2 linked regions of the Homo sapiens genome follow. The protein of the gene in region 2 purifies or fractionates together with the protein of the main gene of each other region. This does not show direct contact. Each region holds a gene or a part of one and is shown on either strand. Other genes may lie near its edges.

What was found. Proteins that work in one complex are often made in the same cells at the same time.
Region 1: the proteins of ZFP57 (region 2) and SMARCAD1 purify together in Homo sapiens (co-immunoprecipitation; one large-scale study listed by IntAct). This does not show direct contact.

What each region holds. Positions count from the first base shown.
Region 1 is NC_000004.12:94,287,865-94,291,792, reverse strand, and holds the end of SMARCAD1 (SWI/SNF-related matrix-associated actin-dependent regulator of chromatin subfamily A containing DEAD/H box 1), read right to left. Parts: intron 2,321-3,928; coding exon 2,259-2,320; 3' UTR 501-2,258; downstream 1-500. UniProt on the Homo sapiens protein: DNA helicase that possesses intrinsic ATP-dependent nucleosome-remodeling activity and is both required for DNA repair and heterochromatin organization.
Region 2 is NC_000006.12:29,678,353-29,682,383, reverse strand, and holds the start of ZFP57 (zinc finger protein 57 homolog), read left to right. Parts: upstream 1-1,231; 5' UTR 1,232-1,322; intron 1,323-4,031. UniProt on the Homo sapiens protein: Transcription regulator required to maintain maternal and paternal gene imprinting, a process by which gene expression is restricted in a parent of origin-specific manner by epigenetic modification of genomic DNA and chromatin, including DNA methylation.

The DNA of each region.
Region 1 (3,928 bases), on a different chromosome or scaffold from region 2:
AAGAGTTAAAACAATCCGAATTCCTTAAATTTATGGACTGTGAAGTATCACACGTAAGGTCACACAAATGGAAACCAAATCTCCTCATACCCCGTCTCTCCACTACACGATAATGCCAACTGTTAGGAACTACAGTAATGTTTCAAAGTAAGTATCTACTGGCATAAAGTTAAAACTCTATGGGGGTCCCAAACAGTTATAAAAATGCATAAGGCATGTCTTCTTTGTGTAGCTTGCATTTAAAAAATGCTTCAGTTGGTCAAGATATTACTCCAACTCTCGCTTCATTTGCTCTGTAGTGATAATGGGTTACAGTATTTACTGACATCAGTCCAATGAAGGAACCAATGAGAATACATCCTAAGTAGTAAGTTCCAATTTACTGGCAAACAGGCAATATTAAGCACATAAGATAATCTCATTTGTGCCCAATATTATATGATTTTAAGGGTAGGAGGAGGAAGGGTTAGAAACTATTAAAAAGGGTGTGAAAATACAACTTATGATCACAAATATTTTTATTAAGCCCAAGACATAATAGCGCATTACAGGAAGAACCCAACTACATTTCATTAGAGATAAAAGTATGGATATAACAACAACAACAATAACAACAAAAAAAGAAACAGCCTATCATTGAAAATACATTAATACAGAAAACATGAGATATCCATTATGAGATTTTAAAAGGTAAAATTCCTAACAATTTGAATAACTGATTTGGGTATAGTGATGTACAAGGAGGTAGTATTAACACATGAAGACTCCTTTTAGCCCTGTAATGGTAAAATATATTCAGTCTGTTCAATATACCATCAAGACTGGGGTTAAGCCGTGAGTTCTCAGTCTTTAATATCTAAATAATCACTGTAAGAGTTTTATTTGCCTTCCAAATCCAGAGGGTCGTACTACCTAGCATCTTAGCAAGTTAGGATGCTTTGAAAAGCATGATTTCCAAAAATTAACAAATCTTTGATTTATAAATAAGTTTATTTATAATGATATTTACATAATAAAAACAAAACACATGGAACTCACAAGTTATACAAAGAAACTGATGTATAATAAAAACAGCAATATAGACTGACAGGCAGAAATTTAAAGAAAGATTTAATAAAGAGTTAAATATCAAATAGACAACTTCACTTCTAAATTTCACTTTGTCACTCACACTGAATTGGAATTGAACAATGGCTCTCTCTTCAGGCGGTCCTGTACTGGAAATTCTGGAAACTGGTAAAATATATTTTGATAAGAGTTTCAAGTTAATGACCTATTTCCATGCAGTACCTAATGCTGCCTTTAGATGAAGTCACATTCAGTCTGCTTTGAAATGAAATAGCTTTAAGTAATCTGTTCTGCCAGGCTAGAAAAATGTCACCAACATTTTGCTGATGCATGGAGATGTGGCAGTAATAAACTACTATTTAGAGAGGAAGAGAATTGGAGCAGAAGTGACTGGGCAACAGTTTCAAGAGAAGCAAAAGCCGGGAGAGGGAAATCAATGAAAACATGCACAAGATTAGGCAGAGTAATATGCACAATTAGTGCAGTTGGAAAATGAACAGAAGGAATTAATCCATGGAGCAAGGTAGGGGCTTCTTTAGTTACTATTCACTGGAAAACAACTTAGTGCCTAGCCAAATAAATTTGTTTCAGCAGAAGTACTTGAGAGGACCTGGGGGATGTTAGTATATGGAATGCCACCTTTAAATTCAGGTTGAGTTCTTGCTGACATTGGTGAACATCTGCTTCAAATAGCAATAAAATGAAAGCTATATAATCTATACAGCTGCATTCTTTAACATAATAAAAAAGAACTTCAAATGAGACAAGCAAAAACAAGACATAAGCATTGTCAAATAAGGCACATGTAAAAATCTACACACATTATCCAGTGAAAGACAATATATATATATTTGGAGGTAGAAATAATTACAAAAATACTGACATTTCTAAAGCATTAGCATATTTGTTACAAACAATCACCAACTAATCCCCATTCAGAAAACTGCTTTGTAAAATGATTATTCAACATCTTCAGAACTACATATTTGTGGCTTCTTTTTTGAAATTTCACGTGTGAGTATTTGGAGAATTCAGTTAGTGGCAAAAAGTTGTCCATACTATGAGAAATGTAATATGGAAATTATAAAAAGTTATAAATGTTCATAAACCCCATGGTCATCATAATGTAAATGTCCTTGAGTGCACCAAGTTGATATTTCCTCATCAATTGAGAGTTCACAGTTCTTATTTCACAGGCCCATTGATGTTTTTAGTAATGTGGCTATATCTGCTGGCATACTCCCTTCATCACCTGTAGGTCAGAAAGTAGCATTAAAAGCTTTATAAAAATATTTTACTTAAAAAAAAATTGTCTCAATTATTTTTTTTCTTTGGTGAATTCTTACTCATCTTTCAAGGGCTAGTTTGCTTCAGTGTCACTCACCCCTGTTAAAAACTTTCCTAAGCTCTACTTAGATTAGGGCTATTTCCTCTATGTTCTTGTTCATATTGCCAACATAGCAATCTAAGGTTATTTTTCCAATTTTATAAAGCTATATAAAAATACACGGTAATACACTGGATCGTATCTAATTCATGGTACTTAACTTCTCACATTTGCTAAATAAAAAACATTTATGTAAGAAATGGAGTAGGGAAAACAAGGATAACAAACCCAAACCTAAACCAACGAAAACCAATCTATATTCTTATTTTTCATCTAAAGATATAATCACTGACTCAGACCCACACTGTATACATATAAACAACATTCTGAGCACAGCATACCAGCTGATGATTAAATTAGCCACTTTAAATTACCTGGTTTATCCAATGTTTGCCCTATATTTTAATTAAATGAGGCCCCAGTATAAGCACTTACAGGAATTATTTGAGATTTTCTAAATCTCTTTGTGTCACAGTGGCAGATAATCTAGCCATCCCTGATTAATTCAATTTAGCACTGAGAATATTTTGAGATGAGTTGATTAATTTACTAGTTAGTGACAACAGCACAGGTGGCAATTCAAATATTTGCTGATCTGTGATAGATCTGTAACTATGAATAATTTTATAAATTAGATGTGGCTGAAATGTAGCAAAACTAACCACTTCTCTCCTCCTCCCCTCTCTCACAAATATACACCTCAGCTATAATCTAAAATTATGAGTACTTTCATCCACTCTTCTTTTCTCTGTTAAAAAAACAAAAAACAAAACAAAACACATATATCCACAGGAACACAAAATAGTACATCAACTCTTAGGGATGTCAGTTCACTGACATCCTTGCTTCCAAGCTCATCCACAGACTTGAAAATAGCCCATAAAATCCAAATTGACACTTCATAAATTACTATATAAACTGATACTATGTTAGGAAGAATGCAGGGAGAAGAGAAAAGAAGGAAAAGAATAAGGAGATTCTTTTAAACTTGAAGATACTAAAGACAGAATACAATAAAATGCTGTGTGTGAACTTTGGACCCTAGTGTTTTAAGGAAAGCTATAAAAGACATTAAGGGGACAAATGAGAGAAATCTGGATATGAATAATATATGATAATGTCTGAAAATTACTGTTTATTTTCTTAGATGCTACAATGGTATTGTACCAACTTTGAGGAATATGCTGTGATATTGAAAATAAATTGCCATGTTTACAATTGACTTTATTATGGATCAATGGGAAAAAAGAAGTAGAAAAAACAAACACTGCAAATGTCACAACTGTTAAATCGCTGTATTTTTCATTCATACTATACTTTCAACAATTAAAAAAATATATATATATTTTAATAGAGATGGAGTCTTGCTATGTTGCCCAGGCTGGTTTTGAACTCCTGGGCTCAAACGATCCTCCCGCCTGTCTCCCCAAGTGCTGGCATTATAAGCATGAACCACACGCCCAGCCACTGCTT
Region 2 (4,031 bases):
AAAGAAATCTTTTCTTCATCCTTCATGAATGTCCTGTCACAAGGTTTATCAGCAGGCATTCTTTTTTTTTGTTCTGTTTAGAAATAGGGCCTCACTCCATTGCCAAGGCTGGAATGCAGTGGTGCAATCATAGCTCACTGTAACCTCAAACTCCTGAGCTCAAGCAATCCTCCCACCTCAACCTCCTAAGCACCTAGGACTAAAGGCATGTACCACAACACCTGGCCAAGTTGTTTTCATTTTTTCTAGAGAAAGGGTCTTGCTATGTTGCCCAGGTTGGTCTTGAACTCCTGGCCTCCAGCAATCCTCCCTCCTCAGCTTCCCAAAGTGTTAGCATTCCAGGAGTGAGCCACGGGGGCCCAGCCTAGACATTCTTTAGTACTATAGTAATTCAGATAAGATGCTCTTGAAAGAACACTTGCCCAGTAACGGCAATGTCTCCCAAGTAGCTGGGATTACAGGTGTGCGTCACCACCACCGGCTAACTTTTGTATTTTTAATAGGGACAAGGTTTCGCCATATTGGCCACGCTGAGGTCGAACTTCTGACCTCAGGTGATCCGCCCCCTCAGCCTCCCAAAGTGCTGGGATTACAGGTGTGAGCCACCGCTCTCAGCCGCGTGTTTTAATCATAATACTTTGGTCTTTTTTTTTTTTTTTCGTAAATACTTTCCTCTTTTTTTTTTTTTTTTTTTTTTTTGAGATGGAGTTTCACTCTTTTTGCCCAGGCTGGAGTGCAGTGGCGTGATCTGGGCTCACTGCAACCTCCACCTCCCGGATTCAAGCGATTCTCCTGCCTCAGCCTCCTGAGTAGCTGGGGTTACAGGCGCCCGCCACCACGCCTGGCTAATTTTTGTACTTTTAGTAGAGACGAGGTTTCGCCATGTTGGCCAGGGTGGTCTTGAACTCCTGACTTCAGGTAATTCACCAGCCTCGACCTCCCAAAGTGCCGGAATTACAGGTGTGAGCAATCGCGCCCAGGCTTTTTTTTCTTCTTCTTTTAGAGTCAATTAAGACTGGGAAAGCGAAAATCCTAGCGCTACTTGGGACCAGCAGCTATCAGTTGGTCGGAGGCTCGAAGTGGTGGTGCATGGCCGGGCTGTCTGTGATTCTTAGGATGGGAAGCTTGACCTTGGCGGGCTCACCCTCTCATCTGGGTCAAGGGGCACATTCTCGGTGGCCTGATGACTGGGAGGGAGCGGAAGAGGGCGGGGCCGGGGTGGGGCCGCGGCGCCGGGACTGCGGGTGCTCGGCCGGAGCGCTCCAGCCGCTGGTCCCCGGGAGACCCTGTGCCCCTAAATCGCGGTCCACTGCGCGCGTCAGGTGAGTAGAGCGGCGGCGGGGAGTCGCGCTAGCGGTAGTAGAGGCTGATGTTGGATGTTGTCCCCACTCCTCTGACTCTTCCGCAGGCCAGGGGAGCACTGCGCCCCTAATCTTGGAGGGGCTTCCAACCTCTGGGGTCCTCCGGGGAAACGTGGGTTAGTCTGGGGTGTATCCAGGTGCCCTGTCCACTGTGGGCACTCTGGGGATTCCGGGCCGAGGAAGGGCTCCTGGCACGTGTTGAAAAAGTCGGCATCCCAGAAGGAAGATTCTGGGCGGATGGGCATCGGGGAAGGTAGTCCCAACCAATGGGACCGTTTCTGAGCACATAAGCGCATTCAGTGGGTGCTAACAAGCGCCTGCTTTGCCAGGCGACAGTGAGCAAAACCGGCTTTGTTCCCGGCCACCGGAAGCTTCGAGGCTGGGGTTCCGGATCTGGGCGCCCAATGACAAACTAAGCGCGGAGGACAGGGCCAGGAGCGCCCACCAGGGCGGCGATCTGGTGGGTAGGTGCAGGGCAATGGCTGGAAAGGGTCCCCGAAGCCCTGAGCAGAGACCAAAGGGCCGTGCGACTGCAGGAAGGCCATTTTGCTTGGCTGACAGGCGGAAAACTCACGTGGCTGGAGTAGCAGGGTTGGTGACGACAAGGGTGAATCCCACTAAGCATTGCAACTGTTTGCGGTGTGAGGGGTGAGGGGGATTCTCATCATTCTCAGAATTGCTGTGGATAAAGGGTTTTGGGTTGGAGAGAGACTGGGTGCACTCAAAGGACTGAAAGATGGCGACGACACATTCCCTCAGAGGATTTACATTCTGGAAGGGTGGGGACAGGCCCGGGTACAGATAAGCCCGCAGGCGGCCTCCAGCTCTTACAGTCGAAAGTCTGATGAGTTATGCCCAGTCTCCTTCCTCCTCCCGCCGGCATGAGGTTTGGGGCCCTGTGGATGAAGGAAGTTCATGGGAGGCAAACGTGCCTGGGCAAGCAACAGCCGCAGAGATTCAGTCCCCACGGGGGTTAGAATCCACACTTAGGGCCTCTGCCTACCGCCTCCAGCAAATGCCATCTTGAGGACTAGCGGCAGCAGTAGGTCTTCTCTGCCAGAGAACTGGAAGGCCAGGTTCTTGAGGGCACTGTTACTAAGGCGTTTTTTTTTGTTTGTTTGTTTGTTTGTTTGTTTTTGAGACGGAGTTTCACTCTCATTTCCCTGGCTGGAGTGCAATGGCGCGATCTCCGCTCACCGCAACCTCTGCCTCCCGGGTTCAAGCGATTCTCCTGCCTCAGCCTCCCTAGTAGCTACGATTACAGGCATGCGCCACCACGCCGGGATAATTTTGTATTTTTAGTAGAGACGAGGTCCATGTTGGTCAGGCTGGTCTCAAACTCCTGACCTCAGGTGATCCGCCCGCCTCGGCCTCCCCAAGTGTTGGGATTACAGGCTGAGCCACCGTGCCCAGCCTTATTAAGGCTGTTTTGAAGTGCAGTTGGCTGGAAAGTGGAAGAATAATCCAAGATCTGCATGCCTCATAAAAGGAGTGCGAATGGTTTTGAAAGACAGGAAAGGAAAGGGAGAGAGAGGAAAGAAAGAGAGAGGAAGAAAGGAAGGAAATCAAATTCATATCCCAGGAATGCACCTTTCATGACAACATTTTGGAGATCCAATTAACTCTATTCCTCGAGGGCGTTTTTCCTTGCTGGTATTTTCAGTTCTATTAACACTTCTCAAAAAGTGAAAGGAAAAAATAGTCAACAGGGTTTTTTGGTCTTTATTCTTTTCTTTCTATCTCTAGTAAGGGAGATGTGGGTGAGTGGCTGTCAGCAGGAAAAGGTGAGAGTTCAGCTATGTTTGCATCTGAGCAGGAAATTTCCAAGGATGAGCAGGGAACTCCAGTGCTGGGCTCATTGTGAGCCCTGAATAAGTGATTGCTCTTGGGTTGTTAGCAGTATTCTTCACAAAGATCTGTATATACAGTGGTTCCCCTTATCCACAGGTGATATGTTCCAAGAGCTCTAGTGGATACTTTGTTTTTGTTGTTGTTTGAGGCAGAATCTCGCTCTGTCACCCAGGCTGGAGTACAGTGGCACAGTCTTGGCTCACTGCAACCTTCACCTCACGGGTTCAAGTAATTCTGCCTCAGCATCCTGAGCAGCTGGGACTACAGCGTGCCACCACGCCCAGCTAATTTTTGTATTTTCAGTAGAGACGGGGTTTCACCATGTTGGCCAGGCTGGTCTCAAATTCCTGCCCTGAAGTGATCCACCGCGCCCCACCCCAGTGGATACTTTGAAACCATGAATAGTACCAAACCCTGTATACACTATGGTTTTCTTTTTCTATACATACATAATAATGATAAAGTTTAATTTACAAATTAGGCATGGTAAGAGATTGACAACAATAACTAGTAATAAGATAGAACAATTACAGCAATATATTGTAATAAAAGTTGTATGAATGTGGTATCTCTCTCAAAATAATTTATATTGTAAATCTTAGCAACCTCAGCATATGATTATTTTTTCTTTCCTTAAGACAAGAATTTTTACCTTTTTATTTTATGGCTTCTCTTTGCATATCTGAATTTCCAGCGTCTCTACTCTTGTGCTTTTGGGTCATTATTAAGTAAAATAAGGCATTCTTGAGCACAGGCAACTGCTATACTACAGTAGTCAACCTGGTAACTGAGATGGCTAGCTACTAAGGAACTAATGGG